2 separate regions of the Homo sapiens genome follow, and region 2 is linked to region 1. A link means that fine-mapping ties the variant in region 1 to the expression of a gene that starts in the linked region. Tissue or cell type: whole blood. Region 1 holds a variant in brackets; the other region holds the start of a gene. All regions are shown on one strand. Distances are between the middles of the regions.

What was found. PIP is the estimated chance that this variant, and not a neighbour inherited with it, causes the effect.
Region 2: it holds the start of TIMD4, and the variant in region 1 is fine-mapped to the expression of TIMD4 in whole blood (TOPMed, PIP 0.98).

Annotation. Positions count from the first base shown.
Region 1 is chr5:157,045,778-157,053,887 of GRCh38, forward strand. It overlaps HAVCR1 (hepatitis A virus cellular receptor 1), which reads right to left. Exons shown (of 9, transcript NM_001173393.3): 4 at 6,584-6,877; 5 at 3,261-3,368. Among named protein-coding and RNA genes, the nearest start is that of HAVCR1, 9.3 kb to the right of the region's middle. RefSeq lists an enhancer at 4,367-4,926. The variant T/G (reference allele first, on the strand shown) is at 4,612.
Region 2 is chr5:156,959,225-156,967,334 of GRCh38, forward strand. TIMD4 (T cell immunoglobulin and mucin domain containing 4) reads right to left here and starts at 4,002. Exons shown (of 9, transcript NM_138379.3): 1 at 3,917-4,002. The coding sequence starts at 3,974.

The sequences.
Region 1 (8,110 bases):
CACAGTAAGAACTTGGCCCAAGAGCCTTGGATCCACGGCCAAAATGGCAGCAGCCACACAAATCCTGGGGATACAGCTGCTCCACTGTCTGTTCCACCTGGAAAACTCTACTTTGACCAGGTTTCACTGACATAGTATTTCGGAGAATGATTCCCCACTCCTACTTTCTTCCTCCTTACACTCTCAAAGAGTGGGGTGCAGCTGCTCCTACCACTGTTACGTTGTGTTTTTATCTATTTTCATTTTGCTTTTGTGCCTGGAAACAGTTTGCGCTGAGGATTACACTTTCAAAACGAAATGTCGCCATTATCTAATCCCAGTTGAATGAGTCCCTCTGTGAATCACACTGCAGGTCCATTTTAAATTAACCAGCTACCAGGAATGATTGGCAAAAAAAGTAGGCCATGTAGGCTGGGGAGCAGCTGCCTACAGATTGGCAACAGCTGAGTACAATGAGTCATACACACAAGGAGGCCTGCAAGGTGTGACCTTGCTTGGATGCCACACAAGGACACAGAGCCAGCTCAGCATCACAGAGGAGCTCAGCACAGGGCACTCCCAGAGCTTACCACTAAGGGAAACAAGGAGAGTTAGCTGGGAAAGATGACAGGTTTCAGCATCAACTTTCTCCATCACAAGGAAAGACAGGTCAATTCTACACTTCCAAGGAGCAGAGACTCTAAGAGGCCTGTTCAGACTTGAAAGAATAGTAAGGATTGTTTGGAGCAGAGTAGCAGGATCTCAGAGGGTCATGCCTCTTTGATGTTGGTGTGGGTGTCCTCAACTCATCTGTCTTAGTCTGTTCAGGCTGCTATGATAAGATAGCTTAGATTGGGTAATTTAAACAGAAATTTATTGCTCACAGTTCGAGGCTGGGTAGTCCAAGATCAAGGCACAGGCTGATTACTCAATCTAGTGAGGGTCCTCTTTCCTATAGATGGTGTCTTCTATTTGTTCTTATATGGGGGAAGGGTCAAACAAGTTCCCTTGGGCCTCTTTTTGTTTAACTAATTAATTTATTGTTTCTCTCCCATCCAGAAAATGTAACTTGGGCCTTTTATAAGAGCATTGATTCCATTCATGAAGGCGGGGCTCTCATGACCTAATCATGCTCCGAAGGCCCCAGCTCTTAATACTTGCATTGGGAATTAGCTATCAACATGAATTTGGGAATTATCTATCAACATGAATTTAGGGGTGTGGTGTTATGAGATTATACATACATATATAGATAGATAGAGGTCTGTGCATGGTTCCTGGCTCATAACTCCCATATCCCTGATTATAGTCTTTTCTTATCATGGTAAGTATGTTTGACCTCAGGAAACAATATTGGACTTTCTCCTGCTCTCCTTTCACCTGACAAGGCAGAACTTTAATTTCCCCCGCCTTTCTGATTGTGGGTCATAAGACACTTCCCAGAGAGAGTCCTTCCCTGTGCCCCTGGGGGATGGAATGTTGATGTCTTGAAGTTTCCATAAAAACCCAAAAGGCCTGGGTGCGGTGGCTCACGCCTGTAATCTCAACACTTTGGAAGGCTGAGGTGGGCAGATCACCTGAGGTCAGGAGTTCAAGACCAGCCTGGACAACATGATGAAACCCCATCTCTACTAAAAATACAAAATTAGCCGGGCAGGATGACGCATACGTGTAATCCCAGCTACTTGGAAAGCTGAGGCAGGAGAATTGCTTGAACTTGGGAGCAGAGGTTGCAGTGAGCCAAGATCATGTCACTGCCCTCTAGCCTGGGTGATGACAGAGCAAGACTCCGTCTCAAAAAAAAAAAAAGTACAAGAAGACTAGGTTTTGAGAGCTTCCAGATAGTCAAACACTTGGAGGTTCCTAGAAGGTGAAGTTCCCAAGGAAGAGCATGGAACCCTTTCCCATATACCTCATCCTGTGCATCTCATCATCAGTATCCTTTGCAATATCCTTTATAATTATCTGGTAAACATAAGTGTTTCCCTGAGTTCTGGAAGCCACTCCAGGAAATTAATAGAACCCAAAGAGAGGGTTGTGGGAACCCCAACTTGAAACTGGCCGCTCAGAAGTTCCAGAGACCCGAACTTGTGACTGGTGTGTGTGGTGGGGTTGGGAGGGGCAGTCTTGGGGACTGAGCCCCTTACCTGTGGGATATGACCCTCTCTCCGGGTAGACAGTGTAAGAACTGAATTAAAGACACAGCCGGTGTCCACTGCTTGATGTATGGGGAAAAAACTCCACACATTCGGTCACAGAAGTCTTCATCTGAGTTGATGATTGTTGTTGACGTGGTGTGAGAAGAGACAGAAAACCCAGTTTGGGAGTTTCCCTTAATAGCGAGGACACAAACATTCAAATCATAGCCCCATCTGAGAATGCTCATGTAAATACAAATTTGATGAATCAGTGGAAGCCTCCTGGTACTTTTTGGGGTCTGGGACTTGTCAGAAGCATAGGGTCTGGTGTTTGAGCTAAACATCAGAGGGCTGGATTTAATTGTTTTAAGGCCCTGGCCCAAGGAATCAAGTCAAAATAATATGTTCAGATTCAAGACTGGTTGATTTGATTTCTAAAAACAAGGTAATATGCATGTGGATGTTTCCAAATCACATAAGCTATCTGTGCAGTCAGGCATTTGGATTCTTGATGTTCTAAGGAATAATAATAATAGCTGCTATTATATTTATCACTTACCCCCTGTAACCATGTCCCAAATCTTTCATCCCATTTGATCCTCACAAGCATTCTGCAAGATCTTGGTATTACATCCTTTTTACAAATGACAAAACAGCTGGGCACGGTGGCTGATGCCTGTAATCCCAGCACTTTGGGAGGTGGAGGCGGGCAGATCACGAGGTCAGGAGATCGAGACAATCGTGACTAAGACGGTGAAACCCCGACTCTACTAAAAATACAAAAAATTAGCCGGGCGTGGTGGCGGGCGCCTGTAGTCCCAGCTACTCGGGAGGCTGAGGCAGGAGAATGGCGTGAACCTGGGAGGCGGAGCTTGCAGTGAGCCGAGATCGTGCCACTGCACTCCAGCCTGGGCAACAATGCGAGACTCCATCTCAGAAAAAAAAAGAAAACACACACACACACACACACACCAATGACAAAACATTCAGAAAGGGTAGATATTTGTACAAGTCAAATGACTGATCTGTGTGCCTGGTGTTGGCACTCAGATCAGTCGTATTCCAGAGCGTGTGCTCTCAACAAAGTCAATGGTTATCAAGGTTTGAATGATCCCAGGTCTTCAGGAAAGAGAACGCAGTTACCTGTTGTGTAAGAGTACAATGGTGAGCTGGTGGGTTCTCTCCTTATTGCTCCCTGCAGTGTCGTAGGGTGGGTTTCTGCTGGCTGAGGTGAAGATGGTGAAGTGGCTACTGGAATGAAAAGAATGGAAGAATTGTTCCATTTGTGGAGGAAAATGTGCACCCCAAGAAAAATAAAGAACAAAACTAGAATCAGGAATTACCATCACCTTTCCATGGGCCCTTCTCCTGGCCTTCCACAGTGGGCATGCAGGGCTTCTACCGACCCACTTCTGAACCTTTCGGCTCCTCTTAGAAATGTATTCAAAGATGGCCTTCAGGCATTGCCCTGCTATCTAATTATCTCATTAACATGAGGAAATGCGATCTAGATAATGTTCCACATAGTCAATATATACGATTATCTCAAACTTTCTATACTCCCAGGTTCCCTCTAAATAGACAAAGCCAACAACAGGGCATTTTATGTAGAATACCCAATTAAGCTTTATTTTATTCATACAAGTGATATTTCACTTTCAGAAAATGGGGGCTTAGGAATTTGCACTAACATGCCCTACCCCCTTCACAACAGCCCCATTCTGGGTTTCCTGGCCTTACTCAAGTTCAATTATCCACACATCTAATAACTAACAGAGAATAGATACAATATTAATTCCTTGAGGTCTCTTAAAGCTGACAATATTGCCCAATGTCAGCCTTGGTAATGATTTACAACCCTAAAGGTAAGGTTCCTGGCAGGACCTGACCCCAGCTCCTTCTGCATCTGCATTCTAGTCATTCCTTTAGGGGTGATTTCCTGTGTTTTCTGACTCATCTTACACTTCTCACGGTAAAGCTTCCATTAGGAATTCTCCAGCATAGGGCTACATTCCCCTTTCCTTTCCTGAAATCCCTCCTTTATTTCCTATCAGATATCTCACCTTATTTGCAAAGTTGATCACTTGCCTCTTCACAAAGCATTTACATGATTCCCTTCTCTTAGAGCACCACAGAAATTTAGAGTCAATTAGTGACGGTGACTGGATGAATTCCCAAACCTGGCTTTCCTTATTGCCTCTCACTGGTCTGTTTCTCTTTCTCCACCACAGTCTCAATAACTTCACTTTTCAACATCGCTCTTTCTCCTGTTCTCAACTTTTTCCTGTTTTCCTCTAGTGCTCAAACCTGTAAGAGGATGTGGCTCTCTTTCGGAACGAAAAACAGAACAACACAGGAGAGTCACGTGGGCAGTCTGTACCCAATTGAGTTCTGTGCAAAAGATCTCTTGAGCTTAACTTCTTTCCTAAGTTTGGGTCCTTATGGCATCTTTCTTTTCTCCACTGCTCCTACAACCATACATACAATTGTTCCC[T/G]GGAGTTTTAGGCAGCAAGCAGGTACTAGGGGCACTGAGCAGGGAAGATTGGATGCAAAGATAAATGTCCCTGCGTTCTATTTGCTCCAGGGTTCTCTCATTCCTGGACTGTAATGTTCAACTCATGCAAACTCTTTAGAGAACTATCCAGATAAGAATAACCTCAAGTGATACCATCCTCCAAGTTATAGCCATATAAACCAACTCTTAGGAGAAAGGCAACTTTCTCCCATATCTCGGCTTTAAATGAAATCAGTGACTTGGGGATGTTCTCCAAAACCAGTCCACTAATCCATCCACCTTAGCAGACACAAGCTAAGTATTAGAAAGTGAAATCAACATTGAGAAAGTCTAACAGACTCTCTAGTGTGTGCGGCTGCCTGGAACAAAACTGTTTTTCTTACAAAACTTTTATGGCTCTAAAATCCCAGGTATGACCTAATTAACACCCTCTATTTCAAACTGAGCTACTAGCCCAACCCTTCAGATCTCTCCTGGTTAAACACACAATTCAATGGCAGTCAAGGGAAATCAATATGTTCCATCAGATTTTTCCAGCTAAGAGGCTGCGACATTTGTTACTCCTCAGAATCCAGAGCCACCCTAAGGGGTCAATGGATTTCTGAGGGCTTTGAGAATCTCCACTAAAAGTTATCTTTTAAATCCCGAAAATGGAAGATTTGAACCTATACTTGTCCTCAGAATGACAAGCTATTTCCCTACCTATAAGTCAAGTTATCCTCTATTTGTATTAAATCTAATGTCTTATTTACAGGGAATTTGAAGTATCAACTATATGGCCTGAACTGAAAAAAATAAACTGTACATTCTAAATCCCTAAAGCCCTTAAATCCAATGTTACTTTTTCCTAAGTATAAATCACACCTTTTGCAATTTCCACTGTACATAAATAAATTAAAGGACCTTTGAAGTAAAAATGTGTAAGTCATTGACTACCCTGAAAAGACAGTGTGGTTGTTTAAGGGTTTTTTTCAGTAAAAATGTTAGATCAGGGCAAACTCATCCAAACATAAAACTCAGTGCTGATAATAGGAGGCATGATCCAGTAGTTAAAAGTACTGGCCCTATTTCAAGCTAACAGAGATCAAAACGTGACTCGACCACTTTCTATCTGTGTAAATTTCTTTTTTCTTTCTCTTTTCTTTCTTTTTCACTCTGTTACCCAGGCTAGAGTGCAGTGGTGCAATCATGGCTCACTGTAGACTTGACCTCCCGGCCCCAAGCGATTCCTCCACCTCAGCCTCCCAAGTGGCTGGGACTAGAGGCATGCACCACCATGTAGAGACAAGGTCTCTCACTATGTTGCCCAGGCTGGTTTTGAACTCCTCGGCTAAAATTACAGTCATGAGCCACCGCACCTGGCTTCTATCTGTGTAACTTTCAACAATGAACTTTTAGACTCTGTCTCAGTTCTAACAATTATAAACCACACCTACAGTGGATATAATTATCCTAAGAATTAAATGCATGAGGCATGGTGCCTGGTAGATAGAAAACAGTAAATGTTAACTTCTCTGAAATCAAGGTCTGCTTTCAGAATGGACTAAATGATCTCTCTTCAGAGCTCTTCGTGAGGACACTATCTCATTTATCTGACCTTGGTTCTCTGGCATTCCCTGTGTTTTCATCATAAAGCCATACCTAGCTGAGTCAGATCCACAGTATCCCTGTTAGATGTTCTACATCCGTGGTCCAGCTATTTTTGGTTAATAATCAATTTCTTTGAGAATTGACAAAAAGCAATGGGTCCCCTCACTCCAAAAATGCTCATTGGTGCAAAAGACGCATACAACTTGGGAGTTGGGGAGGATCACAAACCCTGAGGAGACCCTGATTGAAACCCAGGTAAGACCCCTCACTCTAGACTGTCCTTCTACCTTGATACAATGCCCTGGATGGTCCGCAGCTCCTCATTAGAAGGCCTTTGGGCTTCCAAACACATCTGTTTTACCTGGTTCATGGTTCTGCCTGGGCAAAGGCATTGGAGGAACAAAGGTAGAGACAGTTGTTGTCACTGGAACACTTGTTGTTGTTGGAATGCTCGTTGTCGTTGGAACGCTCGTTGTCGTTGAAACAGTCATTGTCGTCAGAACAGTCGTTGTCGTTGGAATGCTCATTGTTGTTGGAACAGTTGTCGTTGGAACAGTCGTCATTGGAACAGTCGTTGTCGTTGGAACAGTGGTGCTCGTTCGAACAGTCGTGACGGTTGGAACAGTTGTGACAATTGGAGTAGTCGTGACCTTGGCTGGAGTCAGAAATCAACATGAGAGTGAGCATAAGTCAAACAAGAAACAAGAGCCTCAGGCTGGAACTGTACCCTAGCACACCAATGACAGACTGTCCCTAGGTGGAGTTAACTTCCTGAACTGTCAATCTTGGTCATTGCCCAGCTAGAAACTGTGACAGGAGAGGGCCTTGGAGACATACCCCTCCTTCCAAAAGAAAAGCAGATGTATTGAAAGGTGCATGCATATTCAGCAAATAAGAACAGACGCCTCATATTTGCACTGAAGCACTTTTTTGGGGGCAGGGTCTCACTCTGTCATCCAGGCCGGACTGCAGTGGCATGATCAACTCACTGCTGCCTCGAACTCCCAGGCTGAAGCAATCCTCCTGTGTCAGCTTCCCAAGTAGCTGGGACTACATGCAGGCATCACCACACCCGGCTAATTTTTAAAAAAACTTTTTTTGTAGAGACTGGGCGTGGTGGCTCACGCCTGTAATCCCAGCACTTTATGGGGCCAAGGTGGGTGGACTACTTCAGCTCAGGAGTTCAGAGTTCCAGACCAGCCTGGGCAACAGGTGAAACCCCATCTCTACAAAAAATAGTCAAGTGTGATGACACATGCCTGAAATCTCAGCTACTTGAAAGGCTGAGGCATAAGGATTGATGAACCCCAGAGGTGGAGGTTGCAGTGAGTAGAGACTGGGCCACTGCACTCCAGCCTGAGAAACAGAGCGAGACCCTGTCTTAAAAAAAAAAAAGAAAAAAAGAATTGACCTCATCTTGCTCACCCTTATAAGGGAAACAATCCAAGTCCAAAAGCTAAGAGACTGCAAATTAAAATTCCTCTTAATTAAAACGAAAATAGAGACATAGCTTATTAAGGTCGTAGGTATTGGGTTCTATTATCATTGTAAGACCTTAGTGGAAGAAGATTCATTAAGAAACAGCAACGGCCGGGCGCGGCAGCTCACGCCTGTAATCCCAGCACTTTGGGAGGCCGAGGCGGGTAGACTGCCTGAGGTCAGGAGTTTGAGACCAGCTTGGCCAACATGATGAAACCCCATCTTTACTAAAAATACAAAAATTAGCCAGGCATGGTGGTGCGCACCTGTAGTCCCAGCTACTCAGGAGGCCGAGGCAGGAGAATTGCTTGAACCCAGGAGGCAGAGGTTGCAGTGAGCTGAGATCGCATCACTGCACCCCAGCCTGGGCGACAGAGAAAGACTCTGTCTCAAAAAAACAAAACAAAAA
Region 2 (8,110 bases), 87 kb before region 1:
GGAACAACATCCATTAAGCTCACATTGTAAACCCCATTCTGCCATTTACTGCTTTTGTGTTGTTGGAGGAAAGCCATGATAATCCTGACCTCATTATCATCACAAGGCAAAGGGGATAATACTCACCTCAGAAATGGTTCTGAGCTCCACTTGAAGAGGAGTAACAAATGCCACGTGAAATTAACAAAGTATTAATACGCGTAACAAAGGACATTAGAATTTAGAAATAAGACAAAAAAAAATGGTTCCTGTCTGTTGTAAAAGTATCCCTGAGTAAAGCAATTGTTGGTATCAAACCAGTTTCACTTCTGTGGAGCTACCTGGAATGGTGGATACAACCTAGGTCCTTATGCCAGCTTGGTTCCTTCCATAGCTGGTGAGCTTAAGCAAGGCTGGCCCTTCCCCAATCTGAGTCTCAAAATTGCCATCTACAGAGTGAAGGGCATCTTTTAAGAGTACATCCAGCTCTGATCCTTGGTGATTCTGAGCAGTCACTCTCTTTTAATTTGGTTATCTTAGAAAAGGCACATATAGGCCGGGTGTGGTGGCTCACACCTGTAATCCCAGCACTTTGGGAGGCTGATACAGGTGGATCACCTGAGGTCAGGAGTTCAAGACCAGCCTGGCCAAATATGGTGAAACCCTGTCTCTACTAAAAAATACAAAAAATTAGCCAGCTGTGGTGGCGGGCGCCTGCAATCTCAGCTACTTGGGAGGCTGGGGCAGGAGAATTGCTTGAGCCTGGGAGGCAGAAGTTGCAGTGAGCCGAGATTGCACCATTGCACTCCAGCCTGGGCATTGGAGTGAGACTCTGTCTCGAAAAAACCCAAAAATATTTTGAAAAACAAAAGAAAAAAGAAAAGGCACCTATGAAAAAAAAAACAAAATAAAACAAAAAACAGCTCACCAGGTGCTGCCTCCTTCAAGCAGGATTAGAAAATTCCCCTCAACCAGTGTCTTGCTAGTAGCAGGACATGTAGACATAGACCCCTGCAACTTTCAACCTAACAAAACCTTCCAAACTTCAAGTTTCCAGGATAAGACAAAGACAGTAAAAAAAAATTGATGAAAAGGCAGATGGTAGCTTTCTTACATCCAAACAAACCCATACCAAACCCAAAATATAAGTGTGAAAGTGACAGGGACTGCTTTCATTCTGTAGATTGTTTTTTTCTTCCCCCTTTTTTTTTTTTTTTTTTTCAGAAAGAGTCTCACTCTGTCACCCAGGCTGGAGTGCAGTGGTGCAATCTCGGCTCACTGCAACCTCTGCCTCTCTAGTTCAAGCGATTCTCCTGCCTCAGCCTCCTGAGTAGCTGGGATTACAGGCACATGTCACCACGCCTGGCTAATTTTTATATTTTTAGTAGAGACGGGGTTTCACCATGTTGGCCAGGCTGGTCACAAATTCCTGACCTCGGGTGATCCACCAACCTCGGCCTCCCAAAATGCCAGGATTATAGGCATGAGCCACCACCCCTGGCCTGTAGATTGTTTCTTCAGTGCCTATAATGTATCAAGGGTGGAACTAGGTGCTGGAATATAACAAGCCACAAAGCAGACCTGGGCTGCCCTCATGGGGCCTGCAGAGTACCTAGGAAGATAGTCAAATGAGTGAGCATTTGCTATAGAGTGACAAGTTTACAGATGCAGGAACTCCAAGGAGGATGCGAACTCATAGCAGAAACACCTGAACTATTCCAGAGGCTACAAGGTAGCCAGGAAAAGCCTGAATTAAGTAGGGACCTGAGGATGCATGGCACTACGGAGGAAAGAAAGGCAGAGAGAATAGTACAAGTTTGAGAGGTGATGAAACACATTTGTTTTCCTTCAAATATGGGTGTTTTCTCATGCACCATGTTGGAAAGGTTTCTGCACATACAAAGAGCCAAGAGGTAGAAGAAAAAATGTTTAACATTGCTAATCACTGGGGAAATGCAAATCCAAACCACAATGAGGTATCACTTCATTTCTGATAAAATGGCTACTATCAAAAAGACAAAAAGCAAGCATTGCTGGCGAGGACGCAAAGAAAGAGGAACTCTCGTACGCTGTTGGTGGGAATGTAAATTACTACAGCCATTATGGGAAACAGTATGGTGATTCCTTAAAAAACTAAAAATAGAATTACCATATGATCCAACAATCCCACTACTGGGGATATATCCCAAAGAAAGGAAATCAATTAAAGAGATATTTACTCTCCCATGTTTATTACAGCACTATGCACGATAGCCAAGATATAGAAGCAACCTACGTGTCCATCAATGGATGAATGGATAAAGAAAATGTGGTATATGGCCAGGTGCGGTGACTCACGCCTATAAGCCCAGCACTTTGGGAGGCCGAGGTGAGTGGATCGCCTGAGGTCAGGAGTTCAAGACCAGCCTGACCAATATGGTGAAACCCCGTCTCTACTAAAAATACAAAAATTAGCCAGGCATGGTGGCAGGCGCCCATAGTCCCAGCTACTTGGGAGGCTGAGGCAGGAGAATGGCGTGGACCCAGGAGGCAGAGCTTGCAGTGAGCCGAGATAGAGATAGTGCCACTGCAGTCCGGCCTAGGCAAAAGAGCGAGACTCCGTCTCAAAAAAAAAAAAAAAAAAAAAAAAAAAAGAAAGAAAAAAAAAAAGAAAATGTGGTATATAAACACAGTAGAATATTCAGCCATAAAAAAAGAATGAAACTCAGTCATTTGCAACAACATGGATGGAAACAGAGTTTATTAATATTGTGTTAAGTTAAGCTAGGCACAGAAAGACAAATATTGCATGTTCCCACTCATACATGAGAGCTAAAAAAGTTGATCTCATGAAAGTGGAGAATAGAATGATAGTCACTGGAGTCTACAAAGGATAGGGGAAAAGGGGTATGAAGAAAGGCAGGTTAATGGGTACAAAAATACAGTTAGTTAGAACATGAGGAAAAAGGGAAAAAATACAATTAAATAGAAGGAATAAGTCCTAGTGTTTGATAGCATAGTGGGGTGCCTATTGTTATTAATAATTTCTTGTGTATTTCAAAATAACTAGAAGAGAACATTTGAAATGTTCTCAGCACAAAGAAATTTAAATGTTTCAAGAAATGAATATCCCAACTACCCTGATTCGATCATTGTACATTGTATGTATATATCAAAATAACACATATGTAGCCCATAAATATGTATAGTTATTTTGTATCCATTTAAAAAAAAAATGGACTTTTGTAAAACTGCAAGGGCCATTCAATATTATCTTGTCCTAGAAGCACAGATTGTGACAACTGGTCATTTAAAAAGCCAGGTCTCTCATTTCAAATATGGGAGAGCCAGAGCAATTTAGACATATTCCCAGTGTCAACAGTTAGTGCCCGAGACGCAGCTGCAGCTCAGGCCAGAACACTTGGCTCTATACCACCAGGATGCAAAGAACTTCACTGGCCAAAACTGAGTGTGTACACTTGCATCATCCAAAACCCAAAAACAACGTGCAGAAAAGAAACCTTACATAAAGCCTCACCCCAGCAAAACAAAACAAAAAGCAAACACTTCTAAAAACAGAGGGAATGATAAGAATTATCACAATTCTCACCAGAACAAATTCTCCTGGCTTATTGATTATATGAATAACACCCATAGAGGAAATCTCTTTTCCCCAATTTATCTGACCACTTATTTCTGTGTCTCTTCTTCAGTTGCTGTTTCCAATATAAGCCCAAATTACCCCAGCCTAAAACCCCCAGACCAGTCTCTGGATAAACCTCTGTGTAACAAGGCAGGACAGAGACCCTCCACAGAAGGAAGCCTGGTAGGGAGAGGGGAGGGATGCAGAAATGAAGTGAGCTTCTGCTTCACTGAGGCCCAAACCAGTGCATGGAAATCCATCACACAATAGCAAGTCCTCTGGAAACTTCTACATAGAAGGTTTCAGAACACTTACTCAGGTAAAGCCACCAAAACTCAATCATCAGCCAGAGAATGAGAGGTTCTTTGGACATTTTGACGGTTGACCGGACCCAGGAGTCTGTCTATCTATCCAAAGCCCAACCTCTTATATCCCAGTTAATGCTGACAGGGTGGGACTCTTTAGTTTCATTTCTCTTTTTGCCTCATAATCTTCCCTTTCTCCTGTCCTACATGGCTTCCCCCAATGGGCGATGCATGATGAAATGTGCTGAGCCCTTTTCTCCTGGTGACTAGTGTGTGTGTGGAGGGATGGCGTGGACATACTTGTGCTTCTTTGTCCATGTGTATAGTGGGTTTCCTATATGTGCACAAGCATCCATGCATGTGCTGGTGCAAATATGCCTGTATAACCTGTGCATGTGCCACAGTTGTCCCAACTGCTGTACAGCCTGTCACAAAGTGCAATTGACTCTCCATACTGGCAAGTGTTTACATGTAGATTCCTCATGGGGCCAAAGCATAGTTAGACTGAAAGTTGCCTCCATTCCCATTCTAGGTTCTCCCTCACCCTGTCCCCTGGCCTCCTTGCCCTAATAATGGAGAAAGAAAAGTGAGGACAGGCACAGTGGCTCACACCTGTAATCCTAGCACTTAGGGAGGCCGAGATGGGAGGATCGCTTGAGGCCAGGAGTTTGAGACCAGCCTGATCAACATGGCGAAACCCCATCTCAATTTTTTATTTAAAAAAAAGTTTAATAAAAAAATTAAATTTTTTTTTAAGTTTTAGGAAGACACTGAAGCCCAGAACTTCCTGATTCCAAAGCTTATGGTTAATCACTACATTGTCCTTTGACCTGTGACCGTTTGGGTAATGTATCCATATGATGAGGCCTACCTGTGGCTAGCTCCTACTTAGTACCAGGAAGAAAATATAAGAATTCACAAATGTTCTAGATTTTTAAAAATCCTTAATTGATTGTAAACAGCCAGCAAACCTCAAACATTCAACATTGCTTCTACTGAAGGTATCAGTGAAAAATCTAAATATCAGGTGAGGTTCTAGACCCAGAGAAGCCAGACTAACATGAGCAGGGATGAAAATAACGGGATTCAGAGTGAATCTTCCCACTGAATGCCCACAGAACCAAGGGATCCTTTCCCCATTCTATCCCAGGAAACTGGAGGATTTAATCTCTGGATAAACTAAGTGGTCCCAATAAAACATTTTCAGATATTTATAGTTTTGAGTGTTCCCCAACAAAACCACTCAACCCTCCTTCAATAAGTTCATCAGTGCATGAGCCTCAGCCATGCATGCAGAACTGTTAATGAGTCTTTAGTGTCCCTTTCAGATATGAACAGATAACCAGGGATCATCAGACATTTGAGGAAAGCATTTAACATAAAAAAGAGACAAAAATAACAGGGAGAGCTAAAGAGAACTTCAAAAACTTTTTAAAAAGCTAATATTTTCTCAGAAAGAAAGATTTTACATTCATGAAAAAGAACATAGACATTATAAAAATGTCCCGAATTTTATGGAAGTTTTGAAAAATAAAGTTAAGAAAATTTGTTAGAAATTATAACCATCTACAAAGTCAAAGGACTAGGATTGTTTCAGAACATTAAAAAAGAAAATAGAGGAGAGGAAATTACTAAAGAAATAATAAAGGAAAGACTCTCGTAACTAAAGGAGATGACTCTCAGTATTGAGCGGGTCAATCAAATGCTAAACTCAATGAATAAAAATATCCCCAAAAAGCAAGACATTATCATGTAATATGAGAACATCAGACATAAAGAAAAGATACGAAAAGACTCCAGAGAGAAAGAACAACATATTGCACTGAATGGATTTGGAAATAGAATGGCATTGTTGTTCCAAACAACAAAGCTAGAAAATAATGCACGAATGCCTTCAAAATTCAGAGGGAAGGCCGAGTGTGGTGGCTCACATCTGTAATCCCAGCATTTTAAGAGGCCAAAGTGGGTGGATCACTTGAGTCCAGGAGTTCCAGAATAGCCTGGGCAACATGGTAAAAACCTGTATCAGCCGGGCGTGGCGGCTCACGCCTGTAATCCCAGCACTTTGGGAGGCCAAGACGGGCAGATCATTTGAGGTCAGGAGTTCAAGACAAGTCCCAGCAACATGGCAAAACTGGTCGCTACTAAAAATACAAAAATTAGCTGGGTGTGGTGGTGCATGCCTGTAATCCTAGCTACTTGGGAGGCTGAGGCAGGAGAATCACTTGAACCCAGGAGGCAGATGTTGCAGTGAGCTGAGATCATGCTACTGCACTCCAGCCTGGGTGACAGAAGGAGACTCCATCAAAAAAAAAAAAAAAAAGAGGAAAAGAAAATCTATATCTGCCAAAAATACAAAAAATTGGCCGAGTGTGGTGATGCGCACCTGTGGTCCTAGCTACTCCAGAGGCTGAGGTGGGAGGATTGCTTGAGCCCGGGAGGTGAAGGTTGTAGTGAGCTGAGATTGTGCCACTGCACTCCAGCCTGGAAAACAGACAGAGAACCTGTGTCCAAAAAAAAAAAAAAAAATCCAGAGGAGAAATTTAATTTCAACCTAGAATCCTACTCGCAGACAATCTATTTCTCAAATGTAAGATCATAATAAAGGCCTTTTTGGACATAGATTCAAAATTTACTTACTATACTTCCTTTCCTAGAAGTTATGGAAGAGAAATCTGTAGCAAAACGGGAGAAATAACCAGGAAACAGAAAGTCATGGGGTCCAGAAAACATGACATCTAACTCCAGGGAAGAAAAATTTCACAAAGAAAACTGCAGAACAGACCTAGAGGGGAACTGTTTCACTGCATCACAAACCACCCCAAAACCTAGTGCCTGAACAATGTCAATGTACTTTTCATGATTCCCTGGGATGACAGTGTTCAGCTGGGTAGCTCTCACCCAGTGACAGTGGCTATCTCAAGACTAGATTGGACTATTTGTCCAAGATAACTTTCTCACTCACATGACTGATCATCCAAAATGACACTTCTAGCTGGACTTGTATGTCTAGCAAATTAATAGAATGACTAGAAGAGATAGGGGCTGGACTGACAACTGTCTCTCTCCACATGACCTTTCTACATGGAAGCTTGGGCTTCCTTACAGTATGGTGGTCTCAGAGTAGTTGGATTTTTTACATAGGATCTGGCTTTCTCAAAAATTAGCATTCCAACATGCTCAGGAATAATCCACAAAGGTTCTTATGACCTAGCCTTAGGTAACATTCAGTATCATTTTTACAGTATTTTATTGGTCAAAAGGCAAATTATAAGGCCATCCCAGAGAATTCAAGTGGAGGGAGCAATACAAGGATGTGAATGCGAGGAAGTGTGGTTCATTGGAGTGGTAGGGGAAGCATCTTTGGAGAATAATTACTTTAATAACCACCTCAGGCTGGGGCAGAAGAGCAGAGGAATAAGCCTTGGGGTGGTGGTAGTGAGTGTCACGAATAAGCTCATGTACTTAGGTAATTTGAAAATAACTTTGATAGGTGTTTGGCAGATATGATGGAATACTTGGGATGAATTTTTTTTTTTTTTTTTTTGAGACAGGGTCTTGCTCTGTTGCCCAGACCGGAGTGCACTGGTATGAACATGGCTTAGTAAAGCCTCAACCTCCAGGCTCAAGCAATCCTGTTGCCCCAGTCTCCCAAGTAGCTGGAACCACAGGTGTGCCTCCACACCCAGCTAATTTGTTTAAATTTTTGTAGAGGCAGGGTCTTGCCATGTTGCCCAGGCTGGTCTCAAACTCCTGGTCTCAAGTGATCCTCCCATCTCAGCCTCCCAAAGTGCTGGGATTATAGGCATGAGCCACTGCCCACAGCCATGGGATGAATTTTTGATGGATACTTGGGAAATTAAGAAAAAAACACAATGAAGGCTGGGTGCAGTGGCTCACGCCTGTAATCCCAGCACTTTGGGAGGCAGAGGCAGTTGGATCACTTGAGGTCAGGAGTTCCAGACCAGCCTGGCCAACATGGAGAAACCCCATCTCTACCAAAAATACAAAAAGTTGCTGAGTGCAGTGGCACATGCCTGTAATCCCAGTTACTTGGGAGGCTGAGGTGGGAGAATCCCTTGAACCAGGGAGGTGGTGGTTGCAGTGAGTCAAGATCATGCCACTGCACTCCAGCTGGGGTGACAGAGCGAGACTCCGTCTCAAAATAACAAACAAACAAACAAACAAACAAAAAATGAGATAA